Linked DNA regions of Homo sapiens: regions 1, 2 and 4 are each reported to be linked to region 3. The links are microRNA targets in miRTarBase. Many come from high-throughput screens and were not tested one by one. Region 3 holds a microRNA gene; each other region holds the end of a gene's coding sequence.
Evidence for each region. Region 3 holds the annotated microRNA hsa-miR-4270 (UCAGGGAGUCAGGGGAGGGC, at 1,133-1,152, shown strand). A microRNA usually pairs through its seed, bases 2 to 8, with sites in the 3' UTR of a target mRNA and lowers its output. Matches are read on the target gene's strand: a 7mer-m8 pairs with bases 2 to 8, a 7mer-A1 pairs with bases 2 to 7 and ends in A, and an 8mer does both.

Region 1 (3,000 bases), not on the chromosome of region 3:
CTGCCACCACACCCGTCTAATTTTTGTATTTTAGTAGAGATGGGGTTTCACTATGTTGGCCAGGCTGGTCTTGAACTCCTGACCTCAGGTCATACCCCACCTTGGCCTCCCAAAGTGCTGGGATTACAGGTGTGAGCCACCGCACCTGGCCTGAGGTTGCCATCTATTAACCAGAGAACAAGTCCTTGCCAGACACCAAATCTGCTGGCACCTTGATCCTCGATGTCCAAGCCTCGAGAACTGTAAGCAATACATTTCTGTCATTATAAGGCACCCAGTTTATAATATTAACCTGTAGTATTTTAAGTTTTATATCAGTATTGGAAGCCCTATTTTTTTGAGGCAGGGTCTTGCTGTGTTGCCCAGGCTGGAGTGTAGTGGTGCAATCACGACTCACTGCAGCTCTGACCTCCCAGGCTCAAGTGATCTGCCCGCCTCAGCCTCCTGAGTAACTGAGACTATAGGTGTGTGCCACCACATCCAAATAATTTTTCTATTTTTTTGTAGAGATGACATTTCTCCATGCTGCCTAGGCTGGTCTGGAACTCCTGGGCTCAAGTTCAGGAGTCCCACCTCGGCCTCCAATAGTGCTGGGATTACAGGCATGAGCCACTGCACCCGGCCTAACCGGTAATATTTATTTATTTGTTTATTTATTTATTTACTTATTTTTGAGGTAGGGTCTCTGTCGCCCAGACTGGAGTGCAGTGGTGCAATCTCAGCTCACTGCAACTTCTACCTCCTGGGTTCATGTTATACTCGTGTCTCAGCCTCCCGAGTAGCTGATATTCTAGGTGTGCACCACAGAGCCTGGCTAATTTTTGTCTTTTTAGTAGAGACAGCGTTTCACCATGTTGGCCAGGCTGGTCTCAAACTCCTGGGGTCAAGTGATCCACCCACCTCGGCCTCCCAAAGTGTTGTGATGATGGGTGTGGGCCACTGCACCGGGTCTAATCGGTAGTATTTTTGCTATAGCAACTGAATGGACTAAAACACTAGGAATTCCAGTAACCAGGTTTCCTATTGGCCACTCACAGATTTTTTTTGTTTTTTGTTTTTGTTTCTTTGTTTGTTTGTTTGAGACTGAGTCTCGTCCTGTGGCCCAGGCAGGAGTGCCGTGGTGCAATCTCATCTCACTGCAACCTCTGCCTCCCGGGTTCAAGGGATTCTCCTGCCTCAGCCTCCCTAGTAGCTGGGACTACAGGCGTGTGCCACTGCACCAGGCTAATTTTTTGTACTTTTAGTAGAGACGGAGTTTCACCATGCTAGCCAGGATGGTCTCGATCTCCTGATGTGGTGATCCGCCTACCTTGGCCTCCCAAAATGCTGGGATTACAGGTGTGAGCCACCGCACCCGGCCTGGCCACTCACAGATGTAAGAGCACTTGGGGCTTGGGGAGAGGCAGACAGAGGCTTTTTTTAGAATTTATTTTTATTCTTTCAGACCTCTCAGGGATGAACGGACATAGGCTTCTAACACTTAGGTGTGGGCAACATTCTTCGAAGCACCTCCCTCAAAGTGGAAAAGGCCTGGGGGCTCAGACGAGAGAAGAGAGAAGGCAGGGAGAAGGTGGAGGTGAGGAAGGGAGGAGGGGGCCCAGGGCTCAGTGGGGTGTTGGGGAGGGTGGGATTCCACCGGGGTTTGCCCATCCACAGCTCAGTGGGGGGATCTATGGAGTGTGTCTAGCAAGAGAGGACCCATGGCAGGCTTGGTAACTAACATCATGCAGTAGCTTCTTCTATTCTCTCTTATTTTTTTGGAAACGGAGTCTCGCTCTTGTTGCCCAGGCTGGAGTACAGTGGCACAATCTCAGCTCACTGCAACCTCTGCCTCCCAGGTTCAAGTAATTCTCCTGCCTCAGCCTCCTGAGTAGCTGGGATCACAGGTGGGCACCACCACTGTGCCCGTCTGATTTTTGTATTTTTCATAGAGATGGGGTTTCACCACGTTGGGCAGGCTGGTCTCAAACTCCTGTCCTCAGGTGTTCTGCTCACCTTGACCTCCCAAAAGTGCTGGGATTAGGGGCATGAGCCACAGTGCCTGGCCTATTATTCTCTTTTTATTTTTATTTTTCTCATATTTTTCCCTTATATTTTGTTTTCTTTGCTTTTTAAAAATCTTTTTTACTCCTCACTGACTTGAAGCTCAAAACTTTCCTATTTAGCTTCTAATCACACACTCTCTCTTTTTTTTTTTTTTTTTTGAGAAGGGGTCTCACTGTGTTGCCCTGGCTGGTCGGTCTCAAACCTCTGGCCTCAAGCCATCCTCCCATCTCATCCTTCCCAATAGCTGGGATTACAAGTATGGGCCATCATGCCTGAGTAAATTCTTAATAAATGCTTTCTGAATGGATGGACGGAAGTATGAATGAATGGCGAAGTGAATGAAGGAATCAACTTCTTTCTCCTTAGTGGGTGTGTGTGGGCACAGCAGGCTGACCCTCGCCTGTCAGCGAACCCACCCCCTCCTCCCCGGCACAGGGAGCTACAGCTCTGTGTGTCTCTCTTCAGGCTCCTCGAGCTCCTGGATCTTTTGGGGCAGCGCCTTCTTCCAGAACTGGAGCCTGTGGGCCTTCAGAGCCCGGCCCACCGCAGGCTGTAGGTTCAGCTGCAGGTATTGCTCCTCCTGGTCGAACAGCGGCCAGTGTGGCAGACCCTCGCCATTGGGGTTCCTGTAGACATGCCATCCCAGCAGGGCAGTATGAGGGTCACTCTGGGCCCCCGAAGCCCAGACCTGAGCACCCTGAGTCTGGTCAGGCAAGGCAGCCAAGCAGGCCAGGTGGGCTTGGGGAATGAGTGGGGAGGCTTCCAGAAACAGGAAATAAGCTCCCTCTGGCTAGTGTCAGCACCAGTGGGGGTTGGGGGAGGGCAGCCAGCTCTGTTGTGTCCCTCTCTCTGAGAGGGAGGCCCTGACGGTGGCACAGCACTGGCGCCCACCCTCCAGGTAGACTGGAGAGATAGAGCGTGTCCACTGCCCCACGCACCCCCACCCTGTCTGAG
Region 2 (3,095 bases), not on the chromosome of region 3:
TCAATCCCTGAAGCACGTCGTCTACTCAGGCTCACGCAACTAGCATCAGACACCCCACCCTGGGCCAGCACCTTCCTCTCACTGCCACCAGAGGCTACAGAAAGAGGTGCTTGTGGTTAAGGTTTTCCAAGGTTAGAGCTAGTCACCCTCCCACAGAAGACCACTAACCATTAGGAAGCCACTTGGCAACCTCAACCTCAGTGAAGCTGTTTGGATGAGTTGCTGCAGAGGGATGTCACAGTTTGTGACTCGCACTCCCAAGGGGAAACATTCTCATTGCTCTCAGTAGAACGCTGACTGCAGTCTATGTGGTGAAGTCCGCCAAGTCATGAATGGCTAAAGACCAGTGAAGCTGCCAAGTCATTCCTTTTGGACTAACCTCCCAAAAGAAGAGCTCCAAGTATAAGAAGAGTAGCTCCAGAGCCAAGGTGAGGAGAGCTGGCGTCTACTCCTTCCCTTCCAGCTCAGCACTCCAGCTGACCTTCCCACACCAGCGAGGCAGCCACAGATGACTGAGACCACAACTGCAGGTTGTACGGGTTTATTGTTCCAATACCACAAGAGACATACAGAAGCAGTGCTTTCTCTGGGCAGCCTCATGGACCAGATCAGTGTCAAACTGTACCCTTGAGTGTCCCCAAAGGTTCCAGCAGAGGGAAGAAGAGGACTGGACATGTTTGGGCCCCTGTTCCCGGTCTTTGGTAAACAGACGCTTAAGTTGACAACTTGGACTTGGCCAATACTGCATTCTAAATCACCACATCATTCCCAACTTGTCACTCATGCTTCAGATGACGAAAATGCCACATCAGATTAAATGAGAAAAAAACCTTTCAGATAAAATGAGACTTGAAGTCATACAAATTTTATACTTGATCTAAATTAAGCAAGAACCCTCAACTCTGTAATAAGTCGAAATACAAGATATAAGGCAGGAAACAAGGCAAGGGAAAACACACACAGGGGCATCTACTTGCTGGAAACATGTTGGGAGAGAGGCAGGAGCAGGCATGGCTTTGTTTCTTCCCAAACCTGCCTGATGTCAAAAGTACGTCAAAAGGAGCCTCACAGTCCCAGGAGAGCATGGTCCCAGGTATTGCTGTGACAGGTGGTGACCCTGGAGCCAGATCTGGAAGGCCTTCCTGGGGGCTGCCCAGGGAACTCACCCATGAATCCAGAAGCACTTAACACTGGTGGTGGTGATTTGTCACATATGGCAGCAAGCAGCCATTAAGGCTGTAGGAGGAGAGATGTGAAAAGCAAGATGCGTTTGCTCGGTGGCATGTGGGCAGGCTGACTGTGGCTCTGCAGGCTGCAGCAGGTCCAGCCGGTGACCCAACAGGGCATCGGGCAACCTGGCAGGTCACAAGTCAATCATTTCACCCTCACGTCGAGCAGCACAGCACTCAGTGGCTCTGACAACAGATGTAGAGAAGGAGATTACACCACTTTAATGCAATGATGCTGAAGATGTAAAATTAGGAAGAGACGTTCATGTTCTCTGTACAATACATCCATTTACAGAATCAGCCAGTACTGTGTACAACATATAAATACATGATAAAACATTAGAGGTGCATAGAGCATACTTACAGAAGCCAAAAAGTTCACTTTATACATCCAAGAATAAAGAGTTAAAAATATAAAAATAAGAAACACACACTGCTTTGAAATGTAAAATGACTTTCACATACACAGGTGCGTGGAGATGCCCACTCCCATAGGGTCCAAAGTGACAGGGAGGATGTCAAGCAGAGGAATTCACCTGCAAACATCTGGACGGCTGACTCACAAGGTCTACAGATGGCATTTTCATAGGAAAGACAACCCTATTCCCCAACCCCATTGTCCAAGCAGAGCTATTCAAGGTTCCAAATGATCCTGTGGGTTAGTGGATCACACTGAGACAGAAAAGTTCCAAATTTGCTTCAGCAACAGAACCAAGGTCAAACTTGCTCCGTCAACTGGCAAATGACTCAACTGTGACCCTGAGGTCAGCAGGTGCACCAGCCCCCTGGTGGGCAATGCCAGGAGTTACTTTAACCCTGTGCTGGCTTCTTTCCTGGCCATCAACTCCCCAAAGTAGCAGAAGAAAAGATGGCAGGGAGGGGGTAGTGGAAGACTGGCATTTCTACTTAGTTCAGGTAGGTTAACTCCCTTGGTGGAGAATGCAACCTTCTTGCTTCAGTTTCAAGTCCCTCTGGGAGTCAGGCAGTCCCCCCACCCCCCGCAACCCCACTCCGTGCCACATCAGGCTCTGTCTTGCAGGAGAGCTCAGGCTGGCTGGCCTTGGGCAGCCCAATGGGTTATACCCAGGAAACCCCTCCAGCAAGACCAGAAGGGTCGCCAAGTGACAGAGGGCTTTAGCAGTGTAAATTTTGGGGGAAGGCAAGAGTGCTCCTGCCTAAAGAGTATTATATCAATGATATTCTGTATACAGATTTAAGATCAATCATTATCAAAATACACACACTAAATATACAATGTTTCCCATGGCCATAATTTATTATCTCACCACAAGGCACAATACACAGAGCTTTGAGGGTCCAATACAGTCATCGTGACAGAACGCACCGCAGCCTTGGCACATGATCATGGCTTTCAGGCTGCACGCACACTGGAGCGAGATGCTTTCCACCGTGCTGCTGTCAGTGAACATTTGCAAGGAAAGTGATGCACTGTGGCTCGCACCAAAGTTTGCTTTGTGGCTCAGCTGCACCACACTTCCAGCAAGGCCTTTGGGAAAGGTGGGAGAGCTAGAGGAATAATTAAAGCTGGTGGAACTCAGTTGGAGTTTAGAAAGCTTCCCATAAAATGCCTGCTTGATGCTGAGTTGGGAGGGGAGAGAAGAAGGCTCCAGAGGCTCACTGAGCCCCTTCCCTGGCTCTCGGGGTAATTTCCAGAAGGGCAAGTCCATGACAAAGGGCATCCCTTCCAAGTGACCCACCAGTTCCAGGGGACTATGCCCAGTAGCTTTCCTGTTCTCGGCATTTGCCTTAAGAGGACCCCCCACAAAAGTCTTCTCATTCTTGACGCTGCCAACAAAGGCATGTGGCTTTGGAGCCCAGTCTTCCCTTGGAGTCTGTACCCCACCA
Region 3 (3,112 bases):
TGTGGGGCTGGCCTTGCAAGAGGGTAGATGAAGATGGATACAGTGGTGGTTCTGGTGTCATACTTATTTTAAAAAGGGACTAAAGGAGGCCAGGTGCAGTGGCTCATGCCTGTAATCCCAACACTTTGAGAGGCTGAGGTGGGCGGATCACCTGAGGTCAGGAGTTCAAGACCAGCCTGGCCAACATGACAAAACCCCATCTCTAGTAAAAATACAAAAATTAGCCAGGCATGGTGGCACTCGCCTGTAATCCCAGCTGCTCAGGAGACTGAGGCATGAGAGTGGCTTGAACCCTGGAGGCGGAGGTTGCAGTGGGCTGAGAACCCACCACTGCACTCCAGCCTGGGCAATAGAGTGAGACTTCGTCTCAAAAAAAAAAAAAAAAAAAAAAAAAGGCAAAAGGACTTTGGAGATGATTTGGGCAAAACTCTTTGTGGTACAGATGAGGAAACTAAGTTTCAGATTGAGTAAGTGAGTTGTACTGGCTCACATGGCCACTTGCACCTAGACTTAACACTCTTTAATCAAATCCATGTCTTTCCAAGAGTAAATTGGAGAAAATCGCTTTCCAAAGATGTGCCTCAGTTTCTTGAAATGAAACAAGAGAAAGTCTCCTTTTCAAGAATGGGTATTGAGTCCAAAGGGCAAAACCAGCATCATCGACAACAAAAGCTTCAAACACTTGCCAAAGCCTGCATTAAACAATTACCCATAATTTGGCAATGCACTGGCCACATACAACATGAGCTTGATGTCTTTAAGTTGGGACATGCGGTCCTGAAGTTCCGTGATGGTTGGCATTTCCAAGGCAGCTGCCTGGTGCTGAGCCACGTGCTGCTCCCAGGTTTCTGCAGGCTCCACGGAGATACGCACAGGATTGCTTTCAATACAACAGAGCCTTCCGGGGCTTTTCCAGACTGGAGCCTGAGCTCAGACACAATTCTATAGAGACAGTCCATGAGAAAGACCCACAGGCCACTCGGATGACACCAAAATAGACATGTGAAGTCCTGGCTTAGTTGACTGGGAGGGAGGAGGGAGGGGGAAGCTGCTCCCAAACACGTCCACCTGATGGAAATATTCTGAACAGGAATGAGCTGTAAATAAACTAGGCTCCTAAAAACAAATAGCTTCAGGGAGTCAGGGGAGGGCAGAAATAGATGGCCTTCCCCTGCTGGGAAGAAAGTGGGTCAAGGGGGAAAGGGTGAGGGGGATGGGGTGGGGGAGCCGAACAATGCAGAAGCCTCAGCCAGAAATGCAGCTGATAATTTGTGGTCACTGAAGAGGTCTCCAATTTCCAGGAAGAAAGGAGAGAAGTGATTGCTTTAAATGATACAAGGTCCTTCATCAGTGGAAGGCCACACAGGGTGCTGGGTGAAGGAAGGCACTGGAGGCCATATATGGTCTGGAAAAATAATGGTGATGAGTGCATATTAGCAGTGTGGGCCTGCCAGCCTCCCAGGTGCTTTTGGAACACTGCAGCCTCAGCCCTTAGCTGTGTGCTGAGGCAAAAGAGAAGCAAAGGAGAAACTGTAGCCAGGGGACCTTAAAAACGTTCCGGGATTGGTGTGAACCTGCCAGCCTCCTCCACCCTACAACTGAAGCTGCCCACTCCTAGCGACTCAACACTCTAGGAAACTTGGAGAAGCTTGAGGAGGAATACATTGGCATTAATGTCAAGTTCGGGAACAATGTATCCATATTATTTTACCACTGAGAAAAGTAGCCCGTGACAGCTGGAGCTGCCCTGACTCTCAGAGCTCGGCATGGTGTTTTGCAACACAGAAGCGATGTCACAGAACACCAACTTCAGACAGGGTCACCCTGTGACCTTGATGGATTGAGAAGAAAGTAAGAATCACTTGATAATCACAACTGAACACAGACGAAAACAGGACTATCATCCAACCACAAAAGTAACTAAACATTCTCCTATCCTTGCTAATATGAGTGATTGCTGCTGTTTAAAAAACCAATCACAGCTTTGGTCTTGCTCCACTCTCTTCTAGATATGAATTAAGGTACTCAATTATAGAATGGCCCTTTCTTCCTGATGGCATCCAATTCAGAGTGAAGCCAGACTTCATTTCCTCAGTCTCCCCTCCATCACTTAGCAAAATCCCCAACCCTAGGATCAGTCCTTCCCAGCATCCTCTAACTGAGATGCCCCACGGTTCCTTCCGGTGTGTGTTCTCCCTCTTTGCAGTGAGTCAATAAACCCAGCTTGGTTCCCTGAAGCCTTTGCTTGGAGGGCACTGATGCTATAGCCCCAAGTTGTTGTTATGGGACTTGAAGCTCCAGACCTTCATTTCTACCACATGCAGTCATGGTGTAGAGCTCAAGAGGAAGGGCTCCGGAACCAGACTGCCTGGCTCTGTCACTTACTAGCTATATGACTTCGGACAAATTGCTTAACCTCTTTGCCTCAGTTAATGGATCTGTAAAATGGAGATGATGATAACAAGAGTAGTACCTAGCTCTTAGGGTTGCTGTGAGGATTAGGTGAATTTCTATGTGTGAATCACTTAAATGGTGCCTTGCATGTGGTGTTTGTCATTATTAATTCAGCAAACGTTTGTGGAGTGTCTAGCATATGCCAGATACAGTGCTAGACCCTGGGGATAAAAGCTGGCTCCTGCTCTCCCAGAAAGCACAGTTTGGTCAGAGGGATACAAGGAAATAGTTTTTCCCCATGGAGGAAACCTAACATAGGGGTAAACCCAGAGAAAAACAGCAGGGCCACTCAATCTTGCCTGGGAAGTCAAGGAAAGCTTCCTGGTGGAGACGGCATCTAGTGGAGGCTGCTTGTGGGAGGGCAGGGAGTGGGGTACAAGCAGAAGGCCTCTGAGCTCTGCAAGCCTTTCCAACTACAGATGCCATTTAGGTACTTTCTGCTTCCCACAGGCCTGGCCCAGTGCCTGGCAAAGAGTGTGCTCAAATGAATAAATGTCTAACACCCATAAACTAGTGCCTGCTGTGACTTTTCTTTCTCAAACTCTGACCACTGTTGCCCTGGGTACCCTGCAACTTCAAAACCACCCTTGATTCTTCCTGCTTCTTCCCTCCTGCAACATGTTGGCCCCGTTTCTCTGCATCAGTCCCTCCCTTCCTG
Region 4 (3,112 bases), not on the chromosome of region 3:
AACCGAAATGGAGAGGCCCCTCCCTCAAACTCACCATTTGCTGGTGGCCAGGGCTTTGGACTGACTTGCTATCCCCAGAGGATCCCAGCTGGGGCTTTTAAACCCTGAGGGACAGAGGTGGTGGAGAGAGAGAACATGTGACATCGTTCTCAGGGCTTGAGATCACCAGTTTATTTATTCCTCAGAGCAAGTCTATGAAGAAGTACCATTAGCATCTTCATTCTACAGAACCACAGAGGCAGGGCCAGGCACAGTGGCTCATGCCTATAATTCCAGGGCTTTGGGAAGCCAAGGTAGGAAAATCACTTAAGCCCAGGAGTTCAAGACCAGCCTGGCTAACATAGTGTGAAACCCCATTTCTATTAAACAAACAAACAAAAAATGCTTAAAAATTTTAAATAAGTTATAAGGCTGGGTGCAGTGGCTCACGCCTGTAATCCCAGCACTTTGGGAGGCCAAAGTGGGCAAATCACCTTAGGTCAGGAATTTGAGACCAGCCTGACCAACATGATGAAACCTCGTCTCTACTAAAAATACAAAAATTAGCCAGGCGTGGTGGCGGGCGCCTGTAATCCCAGCTACTCAGGAGGCTGAAGCAGGAGAATGGCATGAACCCAGGAGGCGGAGCTTGCAGTGAGCCGACATTGCACCACTGCACTCCAGCCTGAGCGACAGAGCAAGACTCCGTCTCAAAAGAAAAAAAAAAAAAAGAAACAGAGGCCGGGTGTGGTGGCTCATGCCTGTAATCCCAGAATTTTGGGAGGCCCAAGTGGGCAAATCACGAGGTCAGGAGTTCGAGACCAGCCTGGCCAACATGGTGAAACCGCGTCTCTACTAAAAAATACAAAAATTAGCCAGGCGTGGTGGCAGGGGCCTTAATCCCAGCTACTTGAGAGGCAGAGACAGGAGAATTGTTTGAACCTGGGAGGTGGAGGTTGCAGTGAGCAGAGATCGAGCCATTGCACTCAAGCGTGGGGGACAAGAGTGAGACTTCTCTCAAAATAAAAATAATAAAAAATAAAAATACAAAAAAAAAATTAGCTGGGTGTGGTGGTGGGCACCTGTAATCCCAGCTACTCAGGAGGTTGAGGCAGGAGACTCACCTGAACCAGAAGGCGGAGGTTGCAGTGAGCAAGATCATGCCACTGCACTCCAGCCTGGGCAACAGTGCAAGACTCCATCTCAAAAAAAAAAAAAAAGAAACACAGAGGTCAAGTGACCTGCCCAAAGTCACACAGTTTGTAATGAGAGGAGCTGGAATTTGAACCCGAGTAGTCTCGCCCCAGTCAGTGCCCCTAACTATCACCTATGCTGACTACAAAGAAGTGCTGGCTTCCTAGATTCCCCTTCACAACCACCCTCTGGGGAGTGGTGGTGGGGTAAAGGGGAGGTGAGCAGAGCAGCTGACCTTCCTAACCACCTCCACAGATCTCCAGGAGCCACAGCGTGGGAGAAGATGCTCAGCCTCACTCTCCTGGGAAGGCCTCCAGCTCAAGCGGGGAGGCTGGACAGGAACCAGCTTCCTGCATGTCAGATCCCAGGCCCTGTCCAGAGCCAGGCCTCAGTCTTCCAGGATGGAACATGGCCTCCCCACCTCGGACTCCTTGCCCAGAAGCTAGACCTCAGTTTCCCGGCCTTGGTTTCCTAGCAGCGCCCCAGGCCAGAGGCTGCACCAGTCTTCCAAGGCAGCACAGCGCTTTGGTCATTGGCTCTGAGATTTCCAGACAGGCTGAGAAGCAACACCACCGCCGCCGCCATCCACTCTCATCTCTCTGACCCCAGGAAGTGGGCCAGCATCGTTCCCTCTCGGCAGCCAACTGAGATCCCTGGGTGATTCAGCCTCTGTCCCTGACATGATAATTACACCAACAGCAATTCCCAGAACCCCAGCTATTGTCCTATATCACCCCACCCCTCCTCTTGTCTCCTGTGCTGTAACACGAGGGCAGACACTCTGCTTCTCCCCAGAGACATTTGTCCTTTGCTCCAAGCACACAAAAAACTGGGAAGCCCTTCCCACTGTCTGACCTTCAAAGGCCCTGCTGCTGCTAAGCTGCTTCTCCCTACTCCAAGAAAAGAAGAGCTCCTTAAGGAAGGGGAACAGCCCACCCGGGACAAAACAGACAAAGGCCACACCCCAGGAAGGTCTTTCCCACACAAACTTGGGAGGGGAGGCATCTCTGCAGACAACAGGACAGACACAGCACGAGGCAGCCGAGGCTGTCGTTTATTGCAGATGGACACGGATTCAGGGAGGTGAAGAGGCAGATGGGCTGTGGGCTCTGTGCTCAGCATCCCACAGCAGGAGGGGCAGGAGACAGAGCTCAGGATGGGATCTTCCTGATGGTGGAGGACCCGGCCTGACCACAGAGTAGCTGCAAGAGGCAAGGCCCCGAGCTGACACCCCCTGGGCCCCCATTCCGCGGGATGACGGCTCCAGAGACGCTGAGCGATGTCATTAGGAAGAAGGCCGGACCAATCCAGAGACGGTGCATCCTCGGCGTGGAGCACAGAGCTCTCGAGGGCTGGCGATCCGGGTTGGGGTGGAAGGGAGAGTTACCCGGGTCTTCGCCCCTCCGCGGCCTCTGGCGTCTCTCTGGGTGTCTGGCGGCTCGGACGGCGGTCAGGGTCGCTGTAGCGGCGGCGGCGGCTCAGCGGCAGCTGGAGCTGGGGTCGCGGCCCGCCGGGGACTCCCAGGAGGCAGGAGAGGGAGGCAGCGGCGGGCGCCGGGACAGGCGGCACGCCCGGGCGGGCAGCACACGGAGGGGACGGCGCGCTGGGCTGTGGGCCGGCGGGTGCCGCGGGAGACCGCGTGGGTACCCAGATGAGACCGTAGTACACGGCGAGCAGCACGGCAGCTAGCGAGACGCAGAGGAAGTAGGCGCATACCGGAGCCAAGCGCAGCCAGCGCCCCCGCGGGCCCTCGCTCAGCCCCGCGCCTCCGGGGCTCTCGGCGCCGCCGCCCACGCAGCTGGTCCCCCGCATCCCCGCAGCCCACTCGGCTCCGCGCCGCAGACCGCACAGGCCCCGCCCCCACCAGGCCCCGCCCCCACCCCGCAGACCGCCCCGCTCTCTAAACCGCCCGCCTCCGGCCCCGCCCCCGCCAGCATGG

Region 1: miRTarBase lists CES2 as a target of hsa-miR-4270. Seed matches in the 3' UTR shown: 7mer-m8 at 2,479-2,485, 7mer-m8 at 1,561-1,567 and 7mer-A1 at 1,450-1,456.
Region 2: miRTarBase lists ASXL1 as a target of hsa-miR-4270. Seed matches in the 3' UTR shown: 7mer-m8 at 2,102-2,108 and 7mer-m8 at 1,737-1,743.
Region 4: miRTarBase lists INAFM1 as a target of hsa-miR-4270. Seed matches in the 3' UTR shown: 8mer at 2,249-2,256.

The regions. Positions count from the first base shown.
Region 1 is chr16:66,943,511-66,946,510 of GRCh38, reverse strand. It overlaps CES2 (carboxylesterase 2), which reads right to left. Exons shown (of 12, transcript NM_001365405.1): 12 at 1,415-2,672. The coding sequence ends at 2,486. Among named protein-coding and RNA genes, the nearest start is that of CES2, 9.5 kb to the right of the region's middle.
Region 2 is chr20:32,436,750-32,439,844 of GRCh38, reverse strand. It overlaps ASXL1 (ASXL transcriptional regulator 1), which reads right to left. Exons shown (of 13, transcript NM_015338.6): 13 at 526-3,095. The coding sequence ends at 2,507. Among named protein-coding and RNA genes, the nearest start is that of ASXL1, 80 kb to the right of the region's middle.
Region 3 is chr3:15,494,319-15,497,430 of GRCh38, reverse strand. It overlaps MIR4270 (microRNA 4270), which reads left to right and starts at 1,123; the gene lies at 1,123-1,192. All of the region lies in intron 1 of COLQ (collagen like tail subunit of asymmetric acetylcholinesterase), which reads left to right.
Region 4 is chr19:47,274,793-47,277,904 of GRCh38, reverse strand. It overlaps INAFM1 (InaF motif containing 1), which reads right to left and starts at 3,020. Exons shown (of 1, transcript NM_178511.6): 1 at 2,182-3,020. The coding sequence starts at 2,985. The coding sequence ends at 2,557. It also overlaps a transcript of CCDC9 not described here. RefSeq lists a silencer at 2,649-3,098.